4 separate regions of the Homo sapiens genome follow, and all the other regions are linked to region 1. The links come from fine-mapping of genetic effects on gene expression. A gene starts in region 1. Each other region holds a variant in brackets. All regions are shown on one strand. Distances are from middle to middle. Region 1 holds the start of REEP5 (receptor accessory protein 5). Region 2 overlaps DCP2 (decapping mRNA 2). Region 3 overlaps REEP5 (receptor accessory protein 5). Region 4 has its middle 24 kb from the start of REEP5.

Region 1 (8,142 bases):
TTTGATCTTTAAGGCCCAACTCTGATAGTCCCAGGAAGGTGGCAGCCCAAGTCTTAAGGAAAATATGAAATAAAAAGAGGAAAAGTAATAGACATTTTTATAGAATTTTAAGCAAAAAAGTTACTGGGTAGGACAGAAAGCAAACCTTCCCCTTTCCTTAAATAGAAGATAAAGTCTGAGTTTGCCTCACAATTCCATTTGTACAAAGGAGCAAGTACAGGACTAGGGCCCTGGCTCACTAGCGCCCACCCTGGAGGGACTGCACCAGGAGGACTTACTCACATATGAGGGTGCAGCACAGCATACACCCTCCAGAGGACTCTTATTTGTGCAATCCCATTAGAAGCAGGGCTGCACCAGACATTAAAGGCCATATATTGTATGATTCCGTCTACATGAAATGCTCAGAATAGGCAAACTCATAGAAACAGAATGCAGATTAGTGGTTTCCAGGGGCTGGGTAGGAGGAATAGGGAGTGATTGGTGATGGTTTCCCTTTGGGGTGATAAAAATGTTTTGGAATTAGACAGTGGTGATGGTTACACAACTCTGAACATACTAGCCACTGAACTGCATACTTTAAAAGTGTACAATTTATAAGTATCTAAATTATATCTTAGCAATGGGGGGAGGTCTATCTTTATAATAAACATTTCCAGTAGTCTGCCTCCTGTTATCAGTAAAAGAGGGAAGTAAGGAGATTAAGGTAATTATGTCAACAGTTCTTGATGAAAGGAAGGCTGGAATTAGATTCCGAATTGCCTATATAAGATGGCCAAAAATTCTAGAAACTAGAAGTCAGAGATGAAAGACCCTGTTCTCAAAGAGCTCAAAGGGAAATTATGCACACGGAAAGAACAACCAGTAGGAAGAGGGGTATACAATAAGGTACTGGTTGCTCCCCAGTGAGCACTGGGCAAGTCTTCAACCATCTACATGCTCCAACGTGCAGCAGACCCTGACCAGGAGCCAGGTGCACCTGAGCTTCACTCACAGACTTCCAAAGGGAGTCCAAAGGGAGAAAAGCTAGGAAGCCAAGTGAGCTTTTCCCAATTTCATCTTTGCATCCTGCAGTCTCTTGACCCAATACTGACACTACTCCCCTTCTTGTGATGGCCCAAGGAGAGGAAACAGCAAGAGAAAGGCTGAAAGGTGAGAAAGGAAGGAAGTAAATTACTGGCAATAGTTTGGCAAGATCGCGAACTCCTTACAGAGGTCACAGCAGCCAAAGTGACCTTAAAATATAAATCGTATCATGTCACCCCCTATTTAAAACCCATCCAAGGCAATCAGAAAATGCAAACTCCCTACCACCATCTGGAATGAAATGCACACTTCTACCACTGACCCTACCTGCTGGCACCTGCACCTCTCTGGTGCCTCCCCCACCACTCTTTGCTCACACAGAGCTAAGCTGTGTGCTGCCTCAGGGCCTGACACACTCTTCTCCCTCTCCCTGGCTCTGCTCTTGGCTGGCCCCTTCTCATTCCTCAGGTCTTCTCTACCAGAACTGTTTATTTACTTTAGAGGGCTTACCACACGGTCACTACTTTGCCTATTTCTTGCCTGGGTAGACTGCTCATTCAACAAGGACAGAGAGTATGACTACCTTATTTCTTGCCATATCTAAAGTGCTACCACAGTGCCACACATGTGACTGGCATTTGATTTTTGCTAAATAGATGAACCTGTATTTTAAAAAATAACTCTGGCTAGGGAGCATAAGAGTTACAAGAGGTATGGAGAATAGTTAAAATGAAGGTGACTGCTATGGTCTGAATGTTGTGTTCCCCCAACATCCATATGTTGGGACCTAATACCCAATGTATTAGTATTAAATAGTGGTGCCTTTAGGAGGCAATTAAGACATGAGGGCTTGGCCAGGTGTGGTAGCTCACGCCTGTAATCCCAGTACTTTGGGAGGCTGAGACAGGTGGATCACCTGAGGTCAGGAGTTCAAGATCAGCCTGGCTAACATGGCAAAACCGCATCTCTACTAAAAATACTAAAATTACTCAGGCGTGGTGGCACACGCCTGTAATCCCAGCTACTAGGGAGGCTGAGGCAGGAGAATTGCTTGAATTTGGCGGGGGTGGGGGCGGCCAGGGATGGCGGTTGCAGTGAACTGAGATTACGACACTGCACTCCAGCCTGGGCAATATAGAGCGAGACTCTGTCTCAAAAGAAAAGAAACAGGCATGAGAGCTCTGCCCTCATGCATGGGATTCGTGTCCTTATAAAAGAGGCTTGAGGGAGCCAGTTGACCCTTCTACCATGTGAGGAAGCAGTGAGAAGATGCCATCTTTGAAGCAGGGAGCAAGCCCTCACCGGACACCAAATCTGCTGGTGCCTTGGTCCTGGATTTCCCAGCCTCCAGAACTGTGAGCAATAAATTTCTATTGTTTATAAATTATCCAGTCTAAGGTATTTTGTTATAGCAGCCCAAGCAGACTAAGACAGTGTTCACAGGTCACACTTTAAGCAACATGGATTTTGATGCTACTAAAGACCACCATTTTCAAATACTTTTTCTTTCTTTTGGACAATTATACAATCATATTGGTTATGCAATGAACAGACTTGATTAGACTAATGTAACACCGACCGCCTGAATATTTGCTCACGGGGGTCTGTATGCTTTATTCTGTGCACACAATCCCGTTTTTCCTTGAGTCTCCTCCATAAAGCAGAGCCCGGGGTAGGCCTCAGGGCTATATGTAGCTAGACTTTCTGGAGTATGACTAAGTGTCTGTACCGGACTAACACAGTAACAACTACTAGGTAACTGCAATTTAATTGCTCAAATCAGAACTAACTTCTAAAACATGTTTCTTCCCTTATAGTCATAGACTAAATTCTAGCCTAACTAGTGACAGATACAAGCTGTAATAATGTGTTATCTGTGTCTTAGCCTCCTAGGTGAAAATTTTTTCTTCCTTTATTTTTATCCCTATGGTTGAAGAAAGTAGCAGAGACCAACTGAATGAAGGTAAAAACCACTGGCTTTCTTAGGAAGAACTGTAGAGCAAAACAAAATTCATTTCTGGAGAGGAATAATTCCTACTTGAACGAATGGAAAAATAAAATCGTAGAATTAAAAAAAATAAACACATTGTAGAATAAAAACAACTTTGGTAATAAATTCAGATCCTAATCGTAAAAATTCATTTTTTAAGTAGCTCAATTATATAAATGACTCACTTATATAACCAAGGAGCTATATCATGGAGCATTTTTAAAGGTTTTTGTTTTTACACTAGGGTAAGCATTTCCCAAGTTTGTCTGTAACATGTGGCTTTTTCAAAATAAAAGAAAATGAGAAAATTCTCCCTACTGTCTCAATTAACGTAATTATGAATTAAGGAAGACCTAATTGATAGGGTTTTACTCTCTAGGTGCATAAATATATGGTGAAATACTCATTAAAATAATTACTAGACAGAAGTGCTCAGCTCCCTGTACCTTCTGAGATCCTCCCACCAGTAAAGGGAGGACGACAGAGTGGTAGCGCTTTCCTGTTAGTGTGCCAAAGAGAGGGGACACTGGTCACCAGGATAATCTAATGAAAATACCTCTGGGCTAATCGTCAAGAGATAGGGATTAAGTTAAGGTTCCAAAATGGTGAATACTATCCCCACCCCTTATGTCCAACCTCATCCCTCCCCGCCGAGCTTTCACTTTTCTCCCGGGAATTGCGGATGTGCAGTCTACTGCAGCAGCCCTGCGGGGAGGAATGGAGGAAGGGAAGGGGACGGCTGCAGGGTGTGTCACTTACGAGATGTAGGCTGGGTAGCCAAATCCTATCAGGTTGCAGAGGAGAGAGGCTCCATAACCGAACACCAGGTACAAGGCCACCAGTCCGATGACACCTGGGGACCACAAGGAGAGAAGTGGGTCGGGCAGCATGAGAGCCGTTCACGCGGGACAGCCGCCGCCCACACCGCGAGGCTGGGCCTGTTGTAGGAGTTTTCCTCTCGACTCGATTAAAGGAGCGAGAAAAACAAACCACACGAAAGCTGGGCCTGCGCGTCCGCTGGGCTATGCCTTGAAGTCTGGGGATACCAGGCAGCCCCACCATTGTGCCTCTCCTACCTCCCGCAGGGGGCCCCGGCGCTTTGCGCAGCAACCCCCGGCGCCCGGGACGGTCCCAGGCACCCGCTTCCGCCCTCTCGCAGGGCCTGCTGGGCAGCGCTCCAGCCTGGGAAGCTGCGCTCAGCGGGGAGCGTCCCGAGAGGCCCGGACTCCCGCACACGCTGCAGTAGCAGCCCCCGCCCACCCGAGAGGCGCCCTCTCCGGGCGGAGCTCCACGGAGGGTCGGGTAGGACCGGGTACCTCCGTCAACGCGCCCGCCCGCAGGGGCCCCGCCGTCCGCGCCCACCGCGCAGGACAGCAGGAATAGGGCGCCGGGCCGCGGGGCAGACATACGTCAGCGCTGGCCCTTCCAGCTGCCAGCGCCCGGCGCCGCAGCTGCCCTCCAGCCCCGCGACCCTCAGCCTGGGCAGCCCCCGCGGGGTCCTCCGATGCCCACGCTTTCCGGGAGGCCAGCCTGATCCCTGAATATGCTGCTTGTCCCGTCTGTCTCCGACTCCACCTTTCCCGAGTCCTCTCCCTGCTTCCTTCCCCAGCAGCTGGGGCAGCGGCGGCTCCCGTGGCCCTACCAGCGGCGGCGACCCCCGGCCACCCACCAAGAGCGATGAAGCTCCTGTTCACGCCGGTTTTGGCCTCGAGCTTGGCCAGAAGGTCAGTCATGCAGTTCTTCTCGTGCAGGAACCGGTCGAACCTCTCCCTCATGGCCGCAGACATGGCGGGGACCGTCTCGCCGCTCGGGGCTGTTCCTAGTGCCGGATAGACTGGAGCGGCGACTGCGGCGGAGCAGCGGCAGGCGGGGACCGCGGCGCGTCTACGCGTCCTCCACTCGCCTCCGCTCGCCCCGCCCGGCCGCCGCGCGCCCCTCCTCGGCCGCCGCGCGCCCCTCCTCCCCCGCCCAGCGCCAGGGGGACAGCGCCACACCCTGGCGGGGGCGGGCCTGCAACTCCGCGGACGCTGCGAGGTGGCCTGCCTGTTGACAGTCTTAACCCATTGCGGGGTAAAAAGGATGTGGCGTGGGGGCGTGCATTTTGTGTCTCTCGTGGGTCCCCTTCTCAAATCGGACTATTGCAAAAAGCAGGCAGAAAGGAGGCAGGCGTCCTTGTTGCTCCCGCCTGCAATTCACTGCGATGAGTTTGGCACCTACATTGCTGTGCTAAACCTAAGGCATTTTTGACCTAAAAAATTGAAATGTTTGAGCATCGTGAAAGAACTCTTTGGAAGCAGTCCTGCTTTCTCCCTCTTTGCCTTAACTTGGCAGTTTTTCTCACCTACAGACAATCGTTGCCTTGTAAAGACCCTTGAAGAAATCTAACACATCCTCCCTGGGGTACACCTTTTCCAAGCAAAAACTGCATTAAATCTTTTCATGGTGGGCTTGCGTTGTCTTGGTGTCTGATACTGTGGCAAGTGTCCAAATTCTCTCTGTGGAGCCAATATACTCTGCACTTCCTACAGTCAAAATACTCTGAAGAAGACGGAGATTCTAAGGTCCAAGCCTTAGGGCAGGAGCTCATTTTTGCTTCCTTCAGAATGAGTTGGCCATGCTCTTCCTCCACCTAAACCTAGGCTCCTCTTATCTCACCCATATGACTTCCAGACACTCCTAAAATTACTCTTGTTGACTCCTATTCTGCACACTGCTGCAGAATTTTTGTCCGAAGCTCCGTATTATTATCCTAACAGACTAGAGCTCCCATTCCTTGGCAGAGCATTCAATGCCCTGCCCACAACTGGCCCCGAACATTCTGTCTTGGTCCTACACAACCCCTCTGTGCTTTCAAATCTACTTAATTACCCTACTGCCTTCCACTTCTGCAAAAAGTTATCTTGCCCACGCCTAGCTTTTTCCTTTTATGCTAATTCTCCTTCCTCCTTTCTTCCTCAGAGCTTCTTAGCTCAGCTTTCTCAGCTGTTCCTACCACCACCCAGCCAAATCAGTGAACAAGTGAAACAACCTGCTGTCTACTTCTGTCTTTTCACCTACAGTTAATTCTCAATGTGGCAGACAGTAGAATCTGTTTTAAAATGTGCGTCAAGTTGTGCTATGTTTTTGTTCTCAACCCTCCAGCAACTTCCTATCTGCCTGAAGGAGGGCATCAGGGTCACAGGTGACATGGTTCATCCCTCCCCTTTCTGATGTCTTCCCTTACTGCCTCCCTCCTTGCTGTGCCTCAGACAAGGTAAGCCCATTCCTGCCTCTGGGCGTTCGTTCACTTTTCTTCTATTTCAGTGGTTCTCAACCAGGAGCACTTCCTCTCCCCTTCTTCCTCCTGGGGGGAGGAGTAGCAATGTCTAGAGATACTTTCGTTGTGAAACAGATTGTCACACAAGGAGAGCAGGAGGTGGCAAGTGCAACTAGCATCTAGTGGTTAGAGACTAGGGGTGCTGCTAAACATCCTGTAACACACAGGACAGCCCCCACAACAAAGAATTATCCAGCCCCAAATGTCAATAATGTGACAGTCCAGAAACCCTCCTCTATCTGAAAGTATCTTTCCCCAGTTAACCATTTAACTGTCCCCTTCCATTATTCAGATATTTGTTCAAATGGTACCCCTAATCTCAAATTGCAACCCCCAGTGGTCTCTAGCTTGATTTTTCTCCATAGAATTTATTACTGTCTGGCATTATGTTCTACTTTTTTTTTTTTTTTTTTGAGACTGTCTCACTCTGTCACGCAGGCTGGAGTACAGAGGCGTGGTCACAGCTCACCGCAGCCTCGACCTCCTGCTGTGCTCAAGCCATCCTCCCACCTCAGCCTCCCAAGTAGCTGGGACCATAGCCGTGTGCCACCATGTCCGGCTAATTTTTTCTGTTTTTAGTATAGATGGGGTTTCACTATGTTACCCAGGCCAGTCTTGAACTCTGTGATCTGCCCACCTTGGCCTCCCAAAGTTCTGGGATTACAGGTATGAGCCACCACCATGCCAGACCATGTTCTATTTTTAAATTATCTTTCTTTCCTCACTAGATTATGAGCTCCGTGAGGGTAGACATTTTTGCTTATTTTATTTGCTTCAATATTTTAAGCACATTGAACAGTGCCTGGCACTTAGTAGTTGTTCAATAACTATTTGTTGAATTAATGAATGAATGAATATCTAACATGTGTTGTACCACCCAGTATTCCAAGTGTTACGTGGACTAGTTCATTTAATCCTCACAGCTGCATGAGGAAGATGCTACCTGTTTCATCCTCATTTAAGGAAAAAAAAAATGAGACATAGTGAGTTCCCATATCACAATAAGTGGCAGAGCTAGAATTCAGAATCAGGCTCTTACCCCTATATTACATTGCTATTATGGGTTGAATTGTATTCTACCTCCCTAAAGAAGACATGTTGGAATCCTAACCTACAGTACCTCAGAGTGTGATCTTATTTGGTAATAGGGTCTTCAAAGAGGTAGTCAAATTCAAATGAACTCCTTAGGGTGGACCTCAATCCAGTGTGACTGTTGTCCTTATAAAATGGGAAATTTGGCCAGGCGCGGTGGCTCACACCTGTAATCCTAGCACTTTGGAGGCCGAGGCAGGTGGATTACGAGGTCAGGAGATCGAGACTATCCTTGCTAACACGGTGAAACCCCATTTCTACTAAAAATACAAAAAATTAGCCGGGCGTGGTGGCGTGCACCTGTTGTCCCAGATACTCAAGAGGCTGAGGCAGGAGAATGGTGTGAACCCAGAAGGCAGAGCTTGCAGTGAGCCGAGATCAAGCCAATGCACTCCGGCCTGGGCAACAGAGCGAGACTCTGTCTCAAAAAAAAAAGGGGGGGTGAAATTTGGACGGAGACAGATGCATATAAAGGGAAGACTGTGAAGAAACACAGGGAGAAGATGGCCATCTACAAGCCAAGAAGAAAGTCCTGGAACAGATCATTCCCTCACAACCCTCACAAGGAACCAATCCTGCTGAGACCTTGATCTTGGACTTCCAGCCTCCAGAGCTGTGAGATAATAAATTTCTGTTTTATTTATTTATTTAGAGACAGGGTCTCACTGGGTCACCCAGGCTGGACTGCAGTGACACAATCTCCACTCACTGCAACCTC
Region 2 (8,000 bases), 78 kb after region 1:
GTCTAACGGCAGTAAGGTGGTTGTCCAGGTCAGGAAGAGGATATTACATTGGTTGGAATAACAAAACAGTTCCATTTTAGGTTTTTGTCTTGGTTTGAGGGAAGCACAGGCATCCTGAAGAGCCGTAGTCTCTTAATTTCAGGGAGAATTTTTTCGTTTTCATAATAAAAATTCTAACCTCTAAACATTCTTTTTGATCTCTATGATGTCCTTTTATAGCTGACTAAGGAACTTTAATTTCAGTAAATTTTTGGATTAGGATTTTTAAAGGCAAGTTTGACTTTTGATTTTTAAATGACCGACTTTGTCGTAAAGTTTGGGATTAGGGTGAAGTGTTGCTGTTTTAGTCTGTGAGGGCTACCATAACAAAATATCACAGATGGAGTGGCTTAAACAAATTTATTTTGCAACGGTTCTAGACGCTGGGAAGTCCAAGAGCAAGGTGACTTATAGATTAACACCTTGCTGAGCACACTTATACCCTTCTTGTGTACATGCAGAGAGAGATCTGGTGTCTCTTCCTCTTGTAAAAATGGCACCAGCCCTGTCAGATTAGGGCCCTGCCCTTATGGATCTCATTTGACCTTTATTACTTCCTCACAGCCCTATCTCCAAATACAGTTACATGGGGGGTTGAGCTTCAACATATGAATTTTTTTGGTGAGGGGACATAATTTAGTCCATAGCAGTGGCCTTTTTTGAATGATGAAAGTATTCAGCTAGAATTGCAGTTTGTCCTTCTGCCACTTGGTGGTGCTGCGGTATAAAAGAAGCTGCACGGCTTGACCGAGTGACATTACCAGTTGTAAACCAGATGGTTATTCCATTCTTCATAGTTTATTAATGCCTCGTTTTTCCTTTTCATTTCCACTTGTATTAACAGATGAGGAGAGATTTTGTTCTAATTTTCTAGCTACTGATTAGACTTAGGCTGATGTTTTGAGCACTTTTTTTTTCTTGCATTTAAGTTACATACATTTAAGTTCTACCATGGGTGCTTACAATTTTAAGTTGCTAATAGCATTTTTATTTAGCTTATTATGGCATTCATACAGTTATATTAATGTTGTTATTTTAGTATAATTGGCATTCCAGAGGTGTTTTGTTACACTGTAGCAGAATTTGACACATCCTCAAACAGGGAAGGGTCTGTGGGCTAAGCCTAAAGCAGCAGTGGCAGACAAGCTACTTAGGGAGAAGGTGTAAGTAATTATCAATAGAGAGCTAAGAACAGACCTCTTTTTAGCAGACCTTTTTTTTGGGGGCAATCTTAATTAGTAATTTCCAATCTTCTATTTGACCTTTTGGCTCACCTTTGTTAATTTGACTATTTCTGGATAGTTTATTCAGTGAAATAGATTTAGGACTGTCAAAAGACAAAATCACAACAAATTTAAAGATTGCAATGGGTTTATTTGCAATTTTAGAATTATGCAACATTTTATTCCATAAAATAAAATGAGCATTCCAATGGCTGAGCAAAGGAGGTAGGCTTTAAAGACAGAAAAGAGCTGAGGAAAGCAGAACCAAAAACCAAATGTACATTGGCGTTTCAAAGTTAGTTTTCTTCTAAAGGTTAAAGCAGAGGGGACTTCCTTATCATGCTAACTGAAACTGGTCTGTTTTGGGATTTGGCTATTAGCTCTTTTTCTCCACATATCTTGAAGGTTAGGAGAACAACTTAGTTTTGGTTTGGTGACATGGAATGTTAGCATGAGTAATTCCATTTTGTTTAGGTCTGTTGGGGCCTAGTGTGGGAATGCAGTCCATACCGTGGCCTCCTATAAGTTCTATTTAACAGGACAAAGATGTTTTCTAGATATTGTCGAAGGCATAATAATCTCAATTGTATTTTTGTTGTGATTTGTGGTGAAACATCAACTTTCTTGAGAATAAGCGAATAATACTTAGCTGTTCACTTGTGGTTTCAAGATTTAATATATCGTTCCTTATTATTTGGCAAAGCAGTGTTTTAGTGTAATGAAACTGACTTTCATGTGCACTTATATAATTTAATAGAATTAATACAAAGCAACTATTGGTCAGTTTATTCTGCCTCTTCCTGTAGGCTTATAGGATGAAGATTATAGACAGGATTTCATTGTCTTTGTACACTGCTGCTCTTTGGGTTACACTTTTTCTTTTTCTTTTTCTTTTTTTTTTTTTTGAGACGGAGTCTTGTTCTGTCACCCAGGCTGGAGTGCAGTGGTGCGATCTCAGTTCACTGCACCCCAACCTCCGCCTCCCGGGTTCAAGTGATTCTCCTGTCTCAGCATCCCGAGTACCTGGGATTACAGGCGCACGCCACCATGTTTGGCTAATTTTTGTATTTTTAGTAGAGATGGGGTTTCACTATGTTGGCCAGGCTGGTCTTGAACTCCTGACCTCGTGATCCACCAGCCTTGGCCTCCCAAAGTGCTGGGATTACAGGTGTGAGCCACCGAGCCTGGCCCTTTGGGTAACACTTTAAAAAAAATTTTATTTGTGGATTTTTATCTGCTAACATTTGAGAAGTTGATACTCCTTCTGCTAGGAGAATTAAACGCTATATTATAATACAGCAATAGATTTGATTCACAGGAGGTGTGGTATAAAAATTTTTGTCTTTGGTGTCTGTTTATATATTTCAACTATTATAACTTTTTCCTGGCAAATATTTGATGAGAATACTTGCCTAATTTTACAGGCAAATCTGTTTTATCACTTTTAGAATTGATTGGACAGTTTGAATCTACCTCTTTTAGTGCTGGTGGCCCTTGCTGTTTTGCCTCATATTGTACTACTTCCTCCCTTGTAATTCTTAAGCTGTAGCCATTCCTGGCTATCTAAACAGAAGGCCTTTTTTCTTCTTGTTGGTTTGGCAAACTCCTATTTATCTTTTAAGTCCTAGCTCCAGTTTATCCAGCAGAATAGGCTGCTGTCCATAACCAAAGAAGACCATCCCCCAACTCTCAAAGACGTCTACTAAAGGCTGAGTTGGGCACTCTCCTCCTACCTCATAATACTTATATCATATTAAAATTTTTTCTGTTGTAGACTGAACTCCTTAAAGGGTGCTGCTTGCGTTATTCATTACTAAATTCACTGCCTAGAACAGTGCCTGTCATTTACTAAGCACAAAGTACATAGTTGAGTGAAAGCACTAAGAACTAAACATAGCTACGTGACCCCATAAAAATTACATTGAGGATGAGATAGTGTCGTATGTAGAGAAGAATAGATTAATTCAAAGAATAGACTTTAATGTTACACCATAGTTGCTATATTACTTTCGATAAATGTGTGTGCAGAGTTTTTTATTATTGCTGAATTATTTAAGAGTAAATTGCAAACGTAATGCCCCTTTGTCCTTAATTGCTTCTGCATGTATGTTTTAAGAACGAGGAGTTCTTTTAGGGCAATCACAGTGAAATTCTCAAATTCAGGAATGTAACATTGATATGGTGCTGTTTGTTATCTAATGGACAGTTCATATTCACATTCACTAATTGCCCATTATGATTCAGCAGTTCCCACCCATTTGCCTACCCAGGATCCAATCCATGCTTACTTGCTGCATTTGCATTTAATTGACACGTCTCTTCAGTCTCCTTTAATCTGAAACTCTTCCTTACTTTTTCTTCAGTACTTTCTTTTATTAAGCATCTAGTTAGATACTGTTGGTAACACAAAGATAACAGGCTCTGCCCACGAGGAATTCAGATTATACAATTTACTTTTAGCATAATTTCCAATTATGCAGATTCATATGACTAGCTATGTATACTTATTTCTGATTTTTGAGGCATTATTCAAAGAGCAGAGCTAAAGAAAATAACTATAAAACTAGAATTAAGAAACATATAAAAATTACTTTTTAAACCTTTTTCTGTTGTTTTTTTTTTGAGATGGAGTTTCGCTCTTGTTGCCCAGGCTGGAGTGTAATAGCATGATCTCGGCTCACTGCAACCTCCATTTCCTGGGGTTCAAGTGATTCTCCTGTCTCAGCCTTCCGAGTAGCTGGGATTACAGGCATGCGCCACCCCGCCTGGCTAATTTTGTATTTTTAGTAGAGACGGAGTTTCTCCATGTTGGTCAGGCTGGTCTCTAACTCCTGACCTGGTGATTAGCCTGCCTTGGCCTCCCCTTAGTGCTGGGATTACAGGCGTGAGCCATCGCACCCAGCCTTTTTTTTTTTTTTTTTAAAGACAGGGTCTTGCTCTGTCATCTAGACTGGAGTGCACTGGGATGGTGATCACGGTTCACTGTAGCCTGGAACTCCTTTGATCAAGTGATCCTCTCACCCCAGCCTACTGAGTAACTAGAAAAACAGGCGTGCGGCCGGGCATGGTGGCTCATACCTATAATCCTAGCACTTTGGGAGGCCAAGGCGGGTGGATCACCTGAGGTCAGGAGTTTGAGACCAGCCTGGCCAACATGGTGAAACCCTGTCTCTACTAAAAATACAAAAATTAGCTGGGCATGGTGACAGGCAGCTGTAATCCCAGCTGCTCAGGAGGCTGAGGCAGGAGAATTGCTTGAAACTGGGAGGCAGAGGTTGCACTGAGCCAGGAGCCCACCATTGCACTCCAGCCCGGGCAACAAGAGCGAAACTCCATCTCAAAAAAAAAAAAAAAAAAAAAGAAGAAGAAAAACAGGGGTATACCACCATGCCAGGCTAATTTTTATCTACATTTTTTTGTATAGATGGAGTCCCACTGTTGCCT[A/C]GAATGGTCTCGAACACCTGGGCTCAAGTGATCCTCCCTCTTTGGCCTCCCAAAGTACTGAGATTGCAGGTGTGAGCCACTGTGCCCAGTCCTGTTTTTTTGAAGTGCAATTACTGGTCTCGAACACCTGGGCTCAAGTGATCCTCCCTCTGTGGCCTCCCAAAGTACTGAGATTGCAGGTGTGAGCCACTGTGCCCAGTCCTATTTTTTTGAAGTGCAATTACTTGTCTAATACACACACACACACACACACACACACCCACACACCCTACCTGAGTTTTTAATATATTCTTGATCTTAATGGTGTCTTTGAAGACAGTTGCACATATTGATAGGTAAACTTTTAAGTAAACCAGCCTTAATTGTTAAAATTATAAATCCAAGCCATCGAGATTAATTTATTAATCAAAAACATTATTAAGCTCTATCTCAAGCAGTAGATTAGACCTTAGTTTCGAAGGAAAGGAAAACCAAAGCATCTGGACTTTTACTCTGATTGGAATGCTCAGACAGCTTGCATGAGTCAGTTCCACATCATTGATGATTTAATTACCTTACCTTCTGTATATAAATGTTAAGATTTGGAGAGTGGGAAATCTTGAAACCTCTATCACTAGCCTTCAGAATTTTATTCTGGGAAAGATATATAGTTTGTGTGTGTTTGAATGTCAGCAATCAGGTCTACAGTGGACTGGTTCTCTATATACCATACCACCTGTGGATACAGTATTAGAAACAATAGGGCACAAGAACTTTTTTTACATCTCATATGCATTTCTGTACCAGCCTGTCATTTCTAGAAATAGTAAATACAAGTCATGTCCCCTTTTTCTGAGTTTTTGTCTTGGGAATAAATTTTAATGAACTAGAGGCCTAAGAACTAAAATGAAAATTTCATCCAAATTTGTTGTTTCCAGGTCTTTGAAGAAACTGGTTTTGATATCAAAGACTATATTTGTAAGGATGATTACATTGAACTTCGAATCAATGACCAGCTTGCTCGTTTGTACATCATTCCAGGAATTCCAAAAGACACAAAATTTAACCCAAAAACTAGAAGAGAAATTCGGGTATGTAACAAGAGTATTTTCAGGTTACTGGACAGTATCCCAAATGAATAAGTAGGGAAATCCTTTTATAAGCTCCTTGATAAAAATTAACTAAATGAATTATTTTCTTCTGTGTTTCAGAACATTGAGTGGTTCTCTATTGAGAAATTGCCTTGTCATAGAAATGATATGACCCCCAAATCCAAACTTGGTTTGGCACCTAACAAATTTTTTATGGCCATTCCCTTTATCAGGTGTGTTCATATTTCTTGAAATGTAACTTTCATGATTGGGATAGTCATCTTCTGTCTGTAGCCATATTTTGAAAGTGAATTCTTAATGTTTCTGCAGACCATTAAGGGACTGGCTTTCTCGAAGATTTGGCGATTCCTCAGACAGTGACAATGGATTTTCCTCAACTGGTAGCACGCCGGCTAAACCCACTGTGGAAAAATTGAGGTAAAGAAATACATTCATGGAATCCTGATTTTCTAATAGTTTTTAAAAGTGGAATAATAGTATTTTGCTTCTAAAATTTGCAGAGGATGTAAGATTTCTTTTTATAGATACTCTTTGTTACTGGTCTCACAGATAATAGAAGATTTTTTTAAAGGGTTTCTGATGAGATGAAAAAGGTTAATTGGAGTTGGAAAGGAGCTTCAGGCACCTTTTAAAATAGTATACTCAAGAGGATACCAACTTTTTAGATAGAACACTAGGAAAGGAAAAAAAATCTTGTGTCGTGTGTTCTTAGTGTTACTTCTCTGTTGTCATATCCTACTTTTAAGATAATTGAGTTTCTAAAGACGTTTGGATGGAGGATATGTTGAGGTTTGTTTTCTTGTAGGGGAGAGGAAGGATGCTAATGTAGTTTGTTAAATTGGAGATAGAACAGTGAAGACTTGGGCTTTTAAAAAAATTTCCCAGCAAGGGACAGTGGCTCACGCCTGTAATTCCAGCACTTTGGGAGGCCAAGGCAGGTGGATCACCTGAGATCATGAGTTCAAGACCAGCCTGGTCAGCATGGTGAAACCCCATCTCTACTAGAAGTACAAAAATTAGCTGGGCGTGGTGGCAGGCACCTGTAATCCCAGCTTCTCGGGAGGCTGAGGCAGGAGAATGGCTTAAACCTGGGAGGCGGAGGTTTCAGTGGGCCAAGATCATGCCACTGTACTCCAGCCTGGGTGACAGAGTGAGACTCGGTCTCAAAAAAAAAAAAAAAAATTGTGTCAGAGATTGTGTATTATCAAGAGTGACTACTACCTGGACATAAACCGTGAAGAACATTTTCTTGCTTGGAACTTTTTGTTTGTTTTTTGTTTTTGAGGCAGGGTCTCTCTCTGTTGCCCAGGCTGGAGTACGTGGCATGATCACAGCTCACCGCAGCCTTGACCTCCTGGACTCAAGTAATCATCCCACTTAGTTTCCTGAGTCACTGGGAACACAGGCAGATGCCACTAAGCCTGGCTAATTTTTTCTTATTTTTTGTAGAGATGGGGCTCTCCCTATGCTGCCCAGGCTGCTGTTGAACTCTTGGGCTCCAGTGATCCTCCTGCCTCAGCTTCCCAAAGTTTTGAGATTACGGGCGTGAGCCACCATGCCTGGCCTCTGGCTTACAACTTAATTGCATCCAAGTCAGTTACAGAGTAGGCTGGGAAAGTAACTTTGTTAAATAAGGTTGTATTTTTAAACATAATATATATTTTAAGCATAATCACCTTGTTTACAAAGTTGCCTATGTTAGAGAGAGTTGATTTTTACATTTTCTGTAATTTGGATTTGCTTTTATGACAGAGCTTCAGAAATTAAATAGGAGTAAACCACCTCTATAGTAAGCATTTCTTAAATCAGTAGCATTCCATTTTAGATGGATATTCTGAGGACAGGAGCTTGGACTAAATGCCCTGATGTCTTTCAGAATCTGTTATTGTAATATTAGTCAAAAGCTGACTAATTCCTGACCTTGAGTGATCTACCCTCCTTGGCCTCCCAAAGTGCTGGGAGTATAGGTGTGAGCTACTGCGCTCAGCCTGCATTAGTACAACATTTTAATAGATTCTTTTGCAGAAGAATTCGAGACTGGATCTTTACTTAATTTGCTCATTCATTATCTTGTGCCCTTTAATTTTATACTTTAGAGGGTAGCTTACTTTCTCAGATCATCTTTCAGCTAGGATGTGGTCTGTAACTGACTTGTGCAGGGTCAAAAAATTAGCAGGGCATGGTGGCGTGTGTCTGTAGTCTC
Region 3 (8,134 bases), 28 kb before region 1:
ACTTTGGGAGGCTGAGGTTGGAGGATCACATGAGCCCAAGAGTTTTGAGACTAGCCTGTGTAACATAGGGAGACCACATCTCTAGGAAAAAAAAAATTTTTTTTTTTTTTTGAGACTGATTCTTGCTCTCTTACCCAGGCTGGAGTGCTGTGGCACAATATCAGCTCACTGCAACCTCCGCCTCCCGGATTCAAGCGATTCTCCTGTCTCAGCCTCCCAAGTAGCTGGGACTGCAGGCAAACACCACCATGCCCAGCTAATTTTTGTATTTTTAGTAGAGACGGGGTTTCACCATGTTGGCCAGGCTGGTCTTGAACTCCTGACCTCAAATGATCCACCCCCATCGGCCTCCCAAAGTGCTGGGATTACAGGCGTGAGCCACCGCACCCGGCCACAAAAAATAAATTTAAAATTAGCCAGGCTTGGTGATGTATGCCTGTGGTCCTCCTGGGAGGTTGAGGTGGGAGGGTGGCTTGACCTTGGGAGGTCGAGACTGCAGTGAGCTGTGATACCATCACTGCAATCCAGGCTTGGTGAGACAGCAAGACCCTGTCTCAAAAAGACAAAAAAAAGTTGATATATAAAACAACCTAGAAATTAGTAAGAATACAGAATAAAGAACACAAAATTTAAGTCTTTTTTTTTTTTTAAATAAAAAAGGGTTTCACTTTGTCACCCAGGCAGGAGTGCAGTGGCACAAATACAAAACACTATAGCCTCAACTTCCTGGGCTCAAGTGATTCTCCCGCCTCAGCCCCCCAGGTAGCTGAAGACCACAGGCATGCAGGCACGCACCATCACGTCTGGCTAATTTTTGTACTTTTTGTAGAGATGGGGTTTCGCCATGTTGGCCGGGCTGGTCTCGAACTCCTGACCTCAAGTGATCCACCCATCTCAGCCTCCTAAAGTGCTGGGATTACAGGTGTGAGCCACTGCACCTGGCCTAAAATCTCACTCTAAAGATATATACAGATCTCTCAACCCAACAAAGAGGGATTCAAAGAGTTAATATAGTATATAGAGAGTAACAGGATGGACTCAAAGAAACTAACTTCCAATCCTGGTTCTGCCATTTACTAGCTAAGCAAACCTTATACAAGTTACTTAATCACTTAAGTCTGGTTTTTCCTCTATAAAATAGGTATTAATTGAAAATTTTAAAATTTACCCCTATAATTTTGTAAGAAAATAAAATTACTAAGCATAGCAAGGACTTTCTCTGACCCAAGAATACTGTGTTTTCTAACAACATCTATGAAACATTACTAACAGGAGAACATGTTAGCTTTCAGTAGGGGAAAGCAAATCCTAGAACCAAAAATATTTAAGCAAATATTTATTTTTATTTTTTATTTTTGAGACAGAGTCTCACTCTGTCACCCAGGCTGGAGTGTAGTGGCACAGTCTTGGCTCACTGCAACCTCTGCCTCCTGGGTTCAAGCAGTTCTCCTGCCTCAGCCTCCCAAGTAGCTGGGATTACAGGCACGTGCTACCAAGCCTGGCTAATTTTTTTATTTTTAGTAGAGATGAGTTTTTGCCATGTTGGCCAGGCTGGTCTCAAACTCCTGGCCTCAGGTGATCCGCCCATTTCGGCCTCCTAAAGTGCTGGGATTACAGGAGTGAGCCACCGCACCTGGCCATAAGTAAATATTTTAGAACTCTCCTTTTAGTACATGAAATGAAATTCAAATTTATGATATACTTAATTACAAAAAAAGTCTAACTGCAATATAAAGGAGAAACAAAATGAAAGTAATTTGTAATATATATAAGTATGCAAACAAAACAATACTAGAAAACATAAAATATTCATAAGTAGAATCACTGACAGTGGCAGCTATGAACAAAATCTTCCATATATTCCCATAGGTTAAGAATGTCTGAGGGGTCAGGCGGTGCTGGCAAGATGGCTGCACTTGAGAAGATGACGTTTCCCAAGAAGATGACATTTCCAGAGAAACCAAGCCACAAAAAGTACAGGGCCGCCCTGAAGAAGGAGAAACGAAAGAAACGTCGGCAGGAACTTGCTCGACTGAGAGACTCAGGACTCTCACAGGAGGAGGAAGAGGACACTTTTATTGAAGAACAACAACTAGAAGAAGAGAAGCTATTGGAAAGAGAGAGGGAAAGATTACATGAGGAGTGGTTGCTGAGGGAGCAGAAGGCACAAGAAGAATTCAGAATAAAGAAGGAAAAGGAAGAGGCGGCTAAAAAATGGCTAGAAGAACAAGAGAGAAAGTTAAAGGAACAATGGAAAGAACAGCAGAGGAAAGAGAGAGAAGAGGAGGAGCAGAAACAACAGGAGAAGAAAGAAAAAGAGGAAGCTGTGCAGAAGATGCTGGATCAGGCTGAAAATGATTTAGAAAATAGTACCACATGGCAAAACCCAGAACCACCCGTGGATTTCAGAGTAATGGAGAAGGATCGAGCTAATTGTCCCTTCTACAGTAAAACAGGAGCTTGCAGATTTGGAGACAGATGTTCACGTAAACATAATTTCCCAACATCTAGTCCTACCCTTCTTATTAAGAGCATGTTTACAACGTTTGGAATGGAGCAGTGCAGGAGGGATGACTATGACCCTGACGCAAGCCTGGAGTACAGCGAGGAAGAAACCTACCAACAGTTCCTAGATTTCTATGAGGATGTGTTGCCCGAGTTCAAGAACGTGGGGAAAGTGATTCAGTTCAAGGTCAGCTGCAATTTGGAACCTCACCTGAGGGGCAATGTATATGTTCAGTACCAGTCGGAAGAAGAATGCCAAGCAGCCCTTTCTCTGTTTAACGGACGATGGTATGCAGGACGACAGCTGCAATGTGAATTCTGCCCAGTGACCCGGTGGAAAATGGCGATTTGTGGTTTATTTGAAATACAACAATGTCCAAGAGGAAAACACTGCAACTTTCTTCATGTGTTCAGAAATCCCAACAATGAATTCTGGGAAGCTAATAGAGACATCTACTTGTCTTCAGATCAGACTGGCTCCTCCTTTGGCAAGAACTCCGAGAGGAGGGAGAAGATGGGCCACCACGACCACTACTACAGCAGGCAGCGGGGAAGGAGAAACCCTAGTCCAGACCACACCTACAAAAGAAATGGGGAATCCGAGAGAAAAAAGAGTAGTCATAGGGGGAAGAAATCTCACAAACGCACATCAAAGAGTCGGGAGAGGCACAATTCACCAAGCAGAGGAAGAAATAGGCACCGCAGCTGGGACCAGGGCCGCCGGAGCCAGAGCCGCAGGAGCCACCGCAGCCGGAGCCAAAGTTCCTCTAGGTGCCGAAGTCGTGGGAGGAGGAAGTCGGGTAATAGAGACAGAACTGTTCAGAGTCCCCAATCCAAATAAACTAGTTTTGTTCTTAAAAAAAAAAAAAAAAAAAAAAAGAATGGACCAGGCCAGGTATAGTGGCTCACACCTGTAATCCCAGCACTTTAGGAGGCTGAGGTGGGTGGATCACTTGAGGTCAGGAGTTTGAGGCCAGCCTGGCCAACATGGCAAAACCCCATTTCTACTAAAAATACAAAAATTAGCCAGGTGTGGTGGCAGGCGTCTGTAATCCAAGCTACTTGGGAAGCTGAGGCAGGAGAATCGCTTGAATCTGGAAGGCGGAGGTTGCAGTGAGTCGACATCATGCCACTTCACTCCAGCCTGGGTGACAGAGCGAGACTGTGTCTCAAAAAATAGAATTTTTGGACTAGTGGAACTACACAGCCTGCTTTCCATATCAGACCATTCAA[T/C]CCAATGGGATTCACTGCCATAATCTCCATGTTATGATTTTAAGCCAGGCCTCTCTTCACCTTTCCTATTCCTTACATTTAAAGACTCCAAAGCTTGTTTACTGAGCACAGATCTTGGAAAACAGGATCTTCAGACTTGGGAAAGCATGACAGTAGATGATGGAAAGGTAAAGACTCAGACTAGCATCTAGTAGTCTCGCTACACATGGATAGTAATGCTACGTGCATGAATGTGCAATCATGCAAAAACTCAAATCAGCCTTCTGCACACACACAATGGTAGACTAAGACCTTCTGTTAAAGGTCCAAGCACTCCAAGGAAGCCAGCGCCTTGAGGTACCCTCAGTATGTGCAAGTAGTTCGATGTTACTCTTAGTTTTCCCAGCAACTCTGCTCTAGCATGCCCTAAGTTTAGCCAGCAGCAGATCTTACTGAATTATAAGATGTTGCCAGAGGTTCAGAACCTTGGTTTTTTTGAGATACGCATTTGCATTGACCCAAAATGGAGAATTAAATGACTGTATTTTTCACTGGCATTAGCTTTGTTTCCTTGGCATAGTGCCAGTTAATTACAGCAGACCCTGCAAGACCACCTCTCTAGTTATTTCCCTGTGGAAGCCTTTTGGTTGGTTTTGTTTTTTTGGTTTTTTTTGTTTTTTTTTTTTTTTTGAGACGGAGTCTTGCTCTGTTGCCAGGCGGGAGTGCAGTGGCGTGATCAGCTCACTGCAACCTCCGCCTCCCAGATTCAAGTGATTCCCCTGCCTCAACCTCTCGAGTAGCTGGTACTACAGGCGCATGCCACCGTGCCCAGCTAATTTTTTGTATTTTAGTAGAGACAGGGTTTCACCATGTTGGCCAGGATGGTCTTGATCTGACCTCGTGATCTGCCCACCTTGGCCTCCTAATGTGCTTAGGATTATAGGCGTGAGCCACTGCACCCTGCTGCCTTTTGGTTTTTAATATCCAAAATTCATACAATGTTTTACTGTAGTTGCTTATATAGGAAAAGCTATACATCCCCAAAATGCAATACAACATTATGATATGCAGGAAATGTCTTGAGTAACATTTTTGACAGAATATCAGAATCCTTGGTGGACATTTTGAAGAATATGCAGAGCATCACAGGGGATGTGCTATGTATTCCTGCACACAGAGCAATTGTTACTTACTATATTAACTATTTGGAGAGCAGCAAGTGTTTTTAGCATCTAACATCCTAACATGATATTTGTTATATATAGGTATTTTGCTGTATTTTATTAATACTTAGTGAATTCGTTGAGTTTTACATTGACATGTAATACATTAAAATTTTTCCCACTTAAAATAGTGGAAAATAAGCTTCTGCATAGAATGTATTCCTACATAGAATATCTGATTTTCAGAAATGGATTATCAAGAGAGAGACAGATGTCCATATTAAAACCAGAGCATTAAGGTGAAGTGAAAATGACTCATTGGATTAAGAATCAGGAGAGGTGGGGCTGGGCGCAGTGGCTTACGCCTGTAATCCCAGCACTTTAGGAGGCCGAGGCAGGTGGATCACGAGGTCAGGAGTTCGAGACCATCCTGGCCAACATGGTGAAACCCTGTCTCTACTAAAATTAGAAAAAAAATAGCCGGGCATTGTGGTGGGCACCCGTAGTCCCAGCCACTCAGGAGGCTGAGGCAGGAGAATCACTGGAACCCAGGAGGCGGAGGTTACAGTGAGCTGAGATTGCGCCACTGCACTCCAGCCTGGCGACAGAGCGAGACTCTGTCTCAAAAAAAAAAAAAAAAAAAAATCAGGAGAGGTGGGGTGTGTTTTATGACTTTAGGCAAATCAACCTAAGAGACAGTTTTCTCTTCTGCAGAGTTTTAGGAAAGTCACAAATTAATGTACTTGAAGAAAGTGTACAATAGAATAGTAGTATTACCAAATCCTAAAGTTCTTATTGTGGAAAATCTCTGAAATATTACCTGCCTATGTAGATGCCAACCCTTCAGCAATCCAGACAAGCTTATTATCTTTTCTGGATGAATTAAGTGTCCACAGTTTTGTACCTCTTCAATGTGATTACTTTGTAGGCTAGACTGCAGACTGTTAATTGACTACTTTCTGGTACCCTCTAGCTATTGTCTTGAGACAGTAAAATAATTACTGCTCTCTAGCTACATCCTTAGCATTTTCCTGTTCTGAAATGAAATCATTTTCTTATGTTAAAAATAAAGTTAATTACTGTTCAACTCCCAAGGTGATATTCAGCTGCCACCTCTTACAACCCTCTCTTCTTAATCTGTGTAACTATTCTACAGCCCAGGAATAGCCTGAGTTTATTAAAGTCACCCACACAGATCTGGCTCTTTTCAATCAAGCTGCCCTCAAAGTGCCAGCTGATGATACTCCCAAGGAGACTCACAAGCCCACTGCTGCCTGCAGTTCAGACAGAGTCCATGCTATTTTAACTGGACTCTTGGCACTATTAGCACTGACACAATGACTCCTTAAATTACGAATTACAACAGGCCATTCTATTCCGTCTGTGCTTCTAATGCTGTCACCATGTGATTTTCCCCCAGAAGAGATATTTCCCAGGTAGGGGTATGCTTAACATGCAGTTACGGAACTGAGAGTTAATGTCAGAAGAAAGCTTTTGCAGTGTAGCCACAGAATAGTTACAGGCTACATTGCTCAGCATGCACAAATAAAAGCTTAAAAGAACGTGTTAAAGGAAAGATTTCCCTGTCTTTTTAGCCTCCTACGAACATTAAGAAGAAAAATGTTGCGAGGCACAGTGGCTTACGCCTGTAATCCTAGCACTCTGGGAGGCTGAGGTGTCCAAGAGGATCACCTGAGGTCAGGAGTTTGAGACCAGCCTGGCCAACATGGTGAAACCCCATCTCTACTAAAAATACAAAATTTGCCTAGCGTGGTGGTGGGCACCTGTAATCCCAGCTACTTGGGAGGCTGAGGCAGGAGAATTGCTTGAATGCGGGAAGTACAGGTTGCAGTGAGCAGAGATCACGCCACTTCACTCCACTCCAGCCTGAGTGAAATAGCGAAACTCCATCTCAAAAAAAAGAAAAAAGAAAAGAAAAATGTTATATTCTCTGTCAATGGGTGAAATAGCACAGGTGACAATTCAGGTCAGGACCTAATCTTGCCAGAGTTTACTCAACCTTGTTCTAAAAATAAATCTAGCCAGGCCTGGTGGCTCACGCCTGTAATTGCAGCACTTCGGGAGGCTGAGGTGGGTGGATCACAAGGTCAGGAGTTGAGACCAGCCTGGCCAACATGGTGAAACCCCGTCTCTACTAAAAATACAAAAATTAGCCGGGCGTGGTTGTGCACCTGTAGTCCCAGCTACTCGGGAGGCTGAGACAGGAGAATCACTTGAACCTGGGAAAGAGGTTACAGTGAGCAGAGGTCACGCCACTGCACTCCAGCCTGGGCGACAGAGCAAGACTCCGTCTCAAAAAAAGTAAAGTAAATCTAGAAAATGATTTAAATGAAGGTAAACAGAGGATACAAAGATATTAATTGCAGCATTATGTATAATCGCATGACAAATGTCCTCAATGTCTTTCAATTGGGAAGTAGGTAAATTATCAATAACATTAGATAGCTATGTCAAAAAATACTGAATAACATGAGAAAATACTCAGAATACTGTGTTAATTGAAAAAAGCAAGACACAGAATTATATATCATATGTGATCTAAGCCACACATATGTTAAGACAGCAATACATACATATATATATACACATACACACAGAGTTCTGTTTTTATTTATATACACAGACCAATATATTTGCACATTTTAAAAAATAGGAAGACTACTCTAAGATGTAGGATTACAAATGTTATTTTCCTCCCTACATAAAACACATCCCATCACACACACACACACACACACACACACACACACACACACACACAAATGTAAACAGTAGGACAACAAGGACTTTGTTTTATTCGCCAAAGTATCTCCCAGATGTAGAACAGAATCTGGCACATGGAGGTTCTAAATAAATCTGCTGAATAAAGGAATGAGCATATGTAAATTTCATAATCAAGAAAAAAAGCTTTTAAATTTATTTTTAAACCCTCTTGCTCAAGGCCAGATGTCAGAGCAAAGCTCAGAATATGCATGATCCAATTTCTACCTAAATACATCATATATTATCTTCTCAACTAAGCTTTGATGCCAAGCCATTGGCTCCTTTTATTTTCCTCCAATCTTATCAGCTGCTTTAGAAAAATGAAAATAAAGCCAACAATATTAACTCTGCAAAAAATAAAATATTAAACATGTCCTCGGGCTGGGAGCAGTGGCTCACACCTGTAATCCCAGCATTTTGAGAGGCCGAGGCGGGCAGATCACTTGAGGTCAGGAGTTTGAGACCAGCCT
Region 4 (8,142 bases), 25 kb after region 1:
ACTTAGGGAGGCCAAGGCGGGCAGATCATCTGAGGCCAGGAGTTCGAGACTAGTCTGGCAGACATGGCAAAACCCCGTCTCTACTAAAAATATATAAATTAGCTGGGCGTGATGGCATATGCCTGTAATTCCAGATACTCAGGAGGCTGAGGCAGGAGAATTGCTTGAACCGGGAGGTGGAGGTTGCAGTGAGCTGAGATTGCGCCATTGCACTCCAGCCTGGGCGACAAGAGTGAAACTCCACCTCAAAAAAATAAATTAAAAATAAAAACAATAATGTGGAAGTACTTACTAGGTAATTAAAGCTTGTTTAGGTTTGTGTCTTGTTCAGGAGAAGGAAAAAACACTGTGTATGTAATTGGAGACTTTATAGGAAAAATGTAGAGATATTCATGTTAAAAAAAATAGAAATGCTATGCATAGCCTTAAAACCAACAAAGAAGGAAAGAAGAATATAGAAAATTTCATCAGTCCCAAAGAAGCAACAGGAATAAAAAGAGAAAAAGAAAAAAAGAAAAAGGGTAGTAAAGCAAAGACCTAAATTAGATGGTAAAAATAAATTTAAATATACCAGGATGACTGACTATATAAGTTTATTAGATAGAATTCATTTACTAATAGATAAAAATCATCTCATTTGATTAACAAGCAAGCAAACAATAGTGTAAATAGTTCAAGGAGCCCACTTAAAACCATCCAGAAATTTCAAGATAAAAGTAAAGAAAAATATAACAATCAAATACTAATAAAAAAAAGAGTACGCAGAAATGCTAATAACATAATGGAATTAACAGCAAATGAATAGAATTATTATTATTATTATTTTTTTTTGAGACAGAGTCTCGCTCTGTCACCCAGGCTGGAGTGCAGTGGCACGATCTCGGCTCACTGCAACGTCTGCCTCCCAGGCTAAAGCGATTCTCATGCCTCAGCCTCCAAAGTAGTTGGGATTACAGGCACCCGCCATCACACCTGGCTAATTTTTGTATTTTTAGTAGAGATGGGTTTTTGCCATGTTGGCCAGGCTGGTCTCAAACTCATGACCTCAAGTGATCCCCCCAATTCAGCCTCCCAAAGCGCTGGGATTACAGGCATGAGTCACGAATAAAATTTAAGATGAAAAGCTTCATTTGGGGTAAAAATGAAAACTTTTTAATGATAGAATAATTTAAGTCAGGCGTGGTGACTCGTACCTGTAATCCTAGCACTTTGGAAGCCTGAGGTGATCGGATTACTAGAGTTCAGGAGTTGGAGACCAGCCTGGGCAACATGACAAAACCCCATCTCTACAAAAAGTACAAAAATTAGCCAGACGTGGTGGCGGGTGCCTGTAATCCCAGCTACTTTAGAGGCTGAAGTGGGAGGATTGTTTGAGCCCAGGATGCAGAGGTTGCAGTGAGCTGTGATCAAGCCACTGCACTCCAGCCTAGGGGGCAAAGTGAGAGTTTGTCTCAAAAAAAAAAAAAAAAAAGAAAAAGAAAGAAAGAATAACTTAGTATGAACCAGCACATCCCCAGCTGTGGTGGCTACAGGAAGAAACTCCTGTTTGAGAAAAGCAGAGGGAAAAGTAAAGGGGACTTTGTCTTGCACCTTAGGTACGATCTTGGCCACAGTGGGTGTAGAGCAAATAAGAAGGCTCTTAGAGTCCCTGAGTCCAGGCCTAGGCTCTTGGACTGCATTTCTGGACCCACCCTGGGCTAGAGGGGAGCCTACTGCCCTGAAGGCTGTTTTTTTTGTTTGTTTGTTTTGTTTTGTTTTGAGATGGAGTCTGGAGTGCAATGGCGGATCTCAGCTCACTGCAAGCTCCGCCTCCCAGGTTCACACCATTCTCCTGCCTTAGCCTCCCGAGCAGCTGGGACTACAGGCGCCCGCCACCACGCCTGGCTAATTTTTTGTATTTTTAGTAGAGACGGGATTTAACCGTGTTAGCCAGGATGGTCTCGATCTCCTGACCTTGTGATCCGCCCGACTTGTCCTCCCAAAGTGCTGGGATTACAGGCTTGAGCCACAGCGCCCGGCCTTGAAGGCTGTTTTTGTCTGCTTGTTTGTTTTGTTTGTTTGTTTTGAGATGGCGTCTCACTCTGTCGCCCAGGCTGGAGTGCAGTAGCACAATCTCTGTTCACCGCAACCTCCACCTCCTGGGTTTAAGCCATTCCCCTGCCTCAGCCTCCTGAGTAGCTTGGATTACAGGTGCCCACCACCACAGCCAGCTAATTTTTGTATTTTTAGCAGAGATGGGATTTCCTCATGTTGGCCAGATTGATCTTGAACTCCTGACCTCAAGTGATTCTCCCGCCTCAGCCTCCCAAAGTGCTGGGATTGCAGGCGTAAGCCACCACGCCCGGCCTGAAGTCTGTATTTTTAGTAGAGTCAGGGTTTCACCATGTTGGTCAGGCTGGTCTTGAGCTCCTGGCCTCAAATGATCTGCCTGCCTCAGCCTCCCAAAGTTCTGGGATTATAGGCATGAGCCACCGCACCTGGCCTAATCATTTCAATTGATTCTGAAAAAGCATTTTGTAAAATTCAACATCCCTTCATGATAAAACCCTCAAAAAACTCGGTATAGAAATAACATACTTCAACACAATAAAAGCCATGTATGATGGACCCACAGCTAGTATCATACTGAACAGGGCAAAATGAAAAGCCTTTCCTCTAATATCTGGAACAAGACAAGGATCTCCACTTTCACTACTGTTATTCAGCATAATACTAGAAGTTCTAGCTAGAGCAATAAAACAAGAGAAAGAAATAAAGGTCATCCAAACTGGAAAGGAAGAATTCAAATTATACTTATTTCCAGATAATCTGACCTTATATTTGTAAAAGCCTTAAAAAATGCACCAAAAAAGTATTACAATTGACAGACGAATTCAGTAAAGTTGCAGAATAAAAAAAAACAATATACAACAATCAGCATTTCTATATGCCAACAGTGAACAGTCTGAAAAAGAAATAAAAAAGTAATCCCATGTACAATGGCCACAAACAGAATTAAGTACCAAGGAATTAACCAAAGAAATGAAAGATTTCTATTATGAAAACTATAAAATGCTCATGAAAGAACTGAAGAGGATACCAAAAAATGAAAAGATATTTCATGTTCACGGATTAGGAGAGTCAGTAGTGTTAAAATGTTCACACTACTCAGAGCAATCTACAGTTTCAATGCAATCCCTATCAAAATACCAGTGACATTTTTCAAAAAAACAGAAAAAGGAATTCCAAAATGTATATGAAACCGCAAAAGACCTAGAATAGCCAAAGCAATCCTGAGCAAAAAGAATAAAACTGGAGGAATCACATTATCTGGCTTCAAATTATACTGGATAGTAACCAAAACAGCATGGTATTTGCATAAAAACAGACAGACCACTCGAACAAAGTAAAAAACCCAGAAGCAAATCCACAAGCCTACAGTGAAGTCATTTTTGACAAAGGTGCCAAGAACATACACTGGAGAAAAGGCAGTCTCTTCAATAAATGGTGCTGGGAAAACTGGATGTCTATACATGGAAGAACAAAACTAAACGCCCATCTTTTGCCATATACAAAAATCAAATAAAAATGGATTAAAGAAAAATCTGAGATCTCAAACTATGAAACTACTGCAAGAAAACATTGGGAAAACTCTCCAGGATATTGGTATGGGCAAAAATTTCTTGAGTAATACCTCACAAGCACAGGCAACCAAAGCGAAAATGGACAAATGGGATCCCTTCAAGTTAAAACGCTTCTGCACAGCAAAGGAAACAATCAACAAAGTGAAGAGCCAACCTACAAAATGGGAGAAAATATTTGCCAACTACCCATGTGACATGGGGTTAATAACCAGAATATAGAAGGAGCTCAAACAACTCTGTAGGGAAAAATCTAATAATTCTGTTTAAAAATGGGCAAAATATTTGAATAGATATTTCTCCTAAGAAGACATACAAATGACAAATAAGTATGTGAAAAGGTGCTCAACATCACTGATCATCAGAGAAATGCAAATCGAAACTACAATGAGATATTATCTCACCTATGTTAAAATGGCTTTTATCCAAAAGAGAGGCAATAACCAAATGCTGGAGAGGATGTAAAGAAAAGGAAACCTTTGTACACTGTTAGTGGGAATGTAAATTAGTACCCCCGCTATGGAGGTTCCTCAAAAAACTAAAAATAGAGCTACCATATGATCTAGCAATCCCACTGCTGGGTATATAACCAAAGGAAAGGAAATCAGTATATCAAAGAGATATCTGCATTCCCATGTTTGTTGCAGCTCTGTTCACAATAGCCAAGATGTGGAAGCAACCTAAGTGTCCATCAACAGATGAATGGATAAAGAAAATGTGGTACATATACACAATG[G/C]AGTACTATTCGGCTATAAAAAGGGGTGAGATCCTGTATTTGCAACAACATAGATGGAACTGGAGGATGTTATGTTAAGAGAAATAAGCCAGGCACAGAAAGACAAATGTCACATGTTCTCACTTATCTGTGGGATCTAAAAATCAAAACAATTGGACCAGGCGCGGTGGTTCACACCTGTAATCCCAGCACCTTGGGAGGCTGAGGTGGGCCGATCACTTGAGGTCAGGAGTTCAAGACCAGCCTGGCCAACATGGTGAAGCCCCATCTCTACTAAAAATACAAAAATTAGCCAGGCATTGTGGCAGGTGCCTGTAGTCCCAGTTGCTCAGGAGGCTGAGGCAGGAGAATCACTTGAACCTGGAAGGCAGAGGTTGCAGTGAGCTGAGATTATGCCACTGCACTCCAGCCTGGGTGACAATGAGACTCCGTCACACACACACACAAAAATGCATACGTAAAAATAAAAATAAAAACAATTGAACTCATGGAGAAAGAGGGTAGAAGAATGGTTACCATAGGCTGGGAAGGTAGTTGGTTGGGAGGAGGTGGGGATAGTTAATGGGTCAAAAAAATAGAAAGAATGAATAAGACTTAGTATTTGATAGCACAACCAGGTGACTATAGTCAATAATAAATTAATTGTACATTTAAAAATTTAATAACTAAAAGTATAACTGGATTGTTTATAACACAAAGGATAAATACTTGAGGGGATGGATACCCCATTCTCCATGATGTGATGATTACACGTTGCGTGTTTGTATCGAAATATCTCATGTATACCATAAATATGTACATCTACTATATAACCACAAGAATTAAATATAAAAAAATTTAAAAGAATTTATCAGAAGAGATAGGAATAAAGAACCATAGTTGTAAAATAAATAAAAGGGAAAATGATAGAATTAGAAGGATGATGAACCAAATCTCAATCAATGAAGAAGATGTTAACCCTCCTCTAACGAATAGATCAAGCTGGCTGAAAGAAATAAAATTAGTAAGCTAGATTGAATTGATATAAAAGAAATAGAACAGAGCTTGCCACCTGATGGGCCACAAGGTACTGATCCCCATAAGCAATACAGTGGGCAGGGCAGGATCTGGGTTGCTGAAGCCTCTGCACCGTGACAGACTATATTAACATTAATCAAGCAAGGACATGGGGAGATGGAACTCTCATGTATTACTTGTGGAAGTCTAAATTGTTATAACTGTTTTTGGAGAGCTCTTTGGCATTATCAAAGTTGGAGATATGCGTTCTCAGCAATTCTACTTGTAAGTCTATACCCTAGAGAAACTTGCATGTGTGTGCATAAGTAGATATGAACAGGAACATTCCTTGCAGCGTTATTTTCAAACCTGGGAAACAACTGGAAGTAACTAACATGTCCATCAACAGGAAAGTGGATTTACTAAAATGAAATTCTAAATAGCAGTTAAATGATGTAGAGTAATGTATAAATATGAGATAAACTACAAATATATAATGTGATGAGAAAAGAGAGACTGCAGAATGTAATGATAACACTAAAAATTTTTTTTATGTGCTGTATTTTATTACATAAAATTACAATCAGTAAAATAATATACTAAATTAATTTTAATTTAATTTTAACTAAAATTAAAAATGGTTTTCTTTTATGATAATGCAGAAAATTACTCTGAACACTTAACTCATGCGTCACTCAATATTATAAGTTAAACACTTATAAACATTATGCAACTTACATTTTAATGTCCTTACTGTTCTAAAGGTCTTAAATAATGCTGACCTAATAAAATATTTCATATCTCTGATGTAGCAACAATTGATGCTATCACATGTGAATACAATAGAAATGAAAAAACAGCATGAAGTAATTTGTGAGTTCAATTACATCATTTACTTTTCAAAAAAATCTGTTATTTTTTTCAAGAAAAAAAGTGTACTTTGAATGTGATTATAACTCTCCAAACAACCTTCTACTCCTTTTAAAGTTATATACAAATAGGCCAGGCATGGTGGCTTCTGCCTGTAATCCCAGCAGTTTGGGAGGCTGAGGCCGGTGGACCACCTGAGGTCAGGAGTTTGAGACCAGCCTGGCCAACATGGCAAAACCCTGTCTCTACTAAAAATACAAAAATTAGTTGGGCATGGTGGCATGTGCCTGTAATCCCAGCTACTCGGGAGGCTGAGACAGGAGAATTGCTTGAACCCAGGAGGCTGAGGTTGCATTGAGCCGAGATTGTGCCACCACACTCCAGCCTGGGTGACAGAGCAAGACTCTGTCTCAAAACAAAACAATAAATAAAGTTATATACAAATAATTGATCTAACAGCTTTAGATTTGGGTTATTTTCTATACTGAACACTCTGATTTAGTGTAATAGCTGAAGTGTCAGGACCACATGTTGATTTTAGCTGAATTGTCCTTCACTTTGTTTTTCATTTATAAATACATTCAAGTCAAGCCAGGTTTGCATGACTTAGGTAGAATTAATCAGTCAACAATTGCACCTTTATTGAATATTATCTCTGCAAGGTACTGTAGGAAATTCAAAATAAATATAAGACATTTTCCTTATTCTCAAAGAATTTAAAATCTAATCCCAGGCTGGGCATGGTGGCTCATGCCTGCAATCCCAGCACTTTGGGAGGCTGAGGCAGGAGGACTGCTTGAGCTCAGGAGTTTGAGACCAGCCTGGGCAACATGGCAAAACCTCATCTCTATAAAAAATACAAAAATTAGCTGGACGTGGTGACACATACCTGTAGTCCCAGCTACTCGGGAGGCTAAGATGGGAGGATTGCTTGAGGCTGCAGTGAGCCATGATTGCGCCACTGCACTCCAATCCTAGAGGTAAGACCAACAGAGAACAATAAAACCATGTGTGGTCTACCTTGTATGCTATGTGTTATGAGAATTTAGAAAAGTTGGAGATCAGGGTGGGCTCTGGTAGCAGTTGATAAAGGATCATGAAGTGAGTGAAATCCGAGCTGGGTTTTTAAAAATAAGAATTTACCCTGGTGCAGAGATGGAATTTAAAAGTAAGACTTTCCTTGAGTTATGTTCTTGTTCCATATCTGAGGAATATGCACTTCTGTCAACCATTGTACTGGATTTAAAAGCAACTCAACCCATTAAATATTGGTCCAGTGGGGAACCTTGGGATTGGGTAACTCAGTGCTTGGTTCTTTCTCTGCCCCAACTCTTTACTAGGTTGGAAACCTAAATTGGAGTAAAGATCATTCCATCCTTCTTTCTCTCCCCTCAGAATCTGATATAACTTATGGCAAGGAGCTATACCCATTCAGATGTACAAAAGTGAAAACAAGAATTTACTAAACACATGTTGAGGTTTAGTAGACATGGACAGTCAGGATTCAGAGGGTCCGTAAAATGGAACGTCAGGCTTGAAGTCTGTTCTCTCTGGCTTTCCCATCTCTTTCTTCCCTTTCTTTTTCTGTGTCAATTCCTTGTCTTTGTTGTGTGGCTTCCTCTGTTCGCTTGAAGATAACCGAAAATGTCAGCCTTGATCTATCTAAACTTTATTGATTGATTTTTTTTTTTTTTAAATAGAGACAGAGTCTCCCTATGTTGCCCAGGCTGGTCTCGAACTCCTGGGCTCAAGGGATCCTTCGGCCCTGGCCTCCCAAAGTGCTAGGATTACAGGTGTAAGCCACCACACCCAGCCAGATCTATCTAAAGTTTAGATGCACATTTCTTTTGCTTTTGCAAGTTCACTTCTTGGAATTTGTACTGTAGATGCTCATACAAATGTGCAAAAGCTAAAAGTATC

The links. PIP is the estimated chance that this variant, and not a neighbour inherited with it, causes the effect.
Region 2: its variant is fine-mapped to the expression of REEP5 in whole blood (INTERVAL, PIP above 0.99).
Region 3: its variant is fine-mapped to the expression of REEP5 in whole blood (INTERVAL, PIP above 0.99). The same link has a PIP of 0.9 or more in monocytes.
Region 4: its variant is fine-mapped to the expression of REEP5 in whole blood (INTERVAL, PIP above 0.99).

The regions. Positions count from the first base shown.
Region 1 is chr5:112,917,388-112,925,529 of GRCh38, forward strand. It overlaps REEP5 (receptor accessory protein 5), which reads right to left and starts at 4,840. Exons shown (of 5, transcript NM_005669.5): 1 at 4,686-4,840; 2 at 3,776-3,869. The coding sequence starts at 4,803. LOC105379123 (a long non-coding RNA gene) reads left to right here and starts at 5,000. Exons shown (of 3, transcript XR_948675.3): 1 at 5,000-6,269. RefSeq lists silencers at 4,031-4,480, 4,841-5,110 and an enhancer at 6,243-6,362.
Region 2 is chr5:112,995,461-113,003,460 of GRCh38, forward strand. It overlaps DCP2 (decapping mRNA 2), which reads left to right. Exons shown (of 11, transcript NM_152624.6): 5 at 5,624-5,776; 6 at 5,897-6,009; 7 at 6,107-6,214. Among named protein-coding and RNA genes, the nearest start is that of DCP2, 23 kb to the left of the region's middle. The variant A/C (reference allele first, on the strand shown) is at 4,707.
Region 3 is chr5:112,889,734-112,897,867 of GRCh38, forward strand. All of the region lies in intron 3 of REEP5 (receptor accessory protein 5), which reads right to left. It also overlaps a transcript of SRP19 not described here and the pseudogene ZRSR2P1. Among named protein-coding and RNA genes, the nearest start is that of REEP5, 28 kb to the right of the region's middle. RefSeq lists an enhancer at 1,524-2,723 and a silencer at 7,086-7,135. The variant T/C (reference allele first, on the strand shown) is at 3,739.
Region 4 is chr5:112,942,490-112,950,631 of GRCh38, forward strand. No RefSeq gene overlaps it. Among named protein-coding and RNA genes, the nearest start is that of REEP5, 24 kb to the left of the region's middle. RefSeq lists a silencer at 8,030-8,142. The variant G/C (reference allele first, on the strand shown) is at 4,357.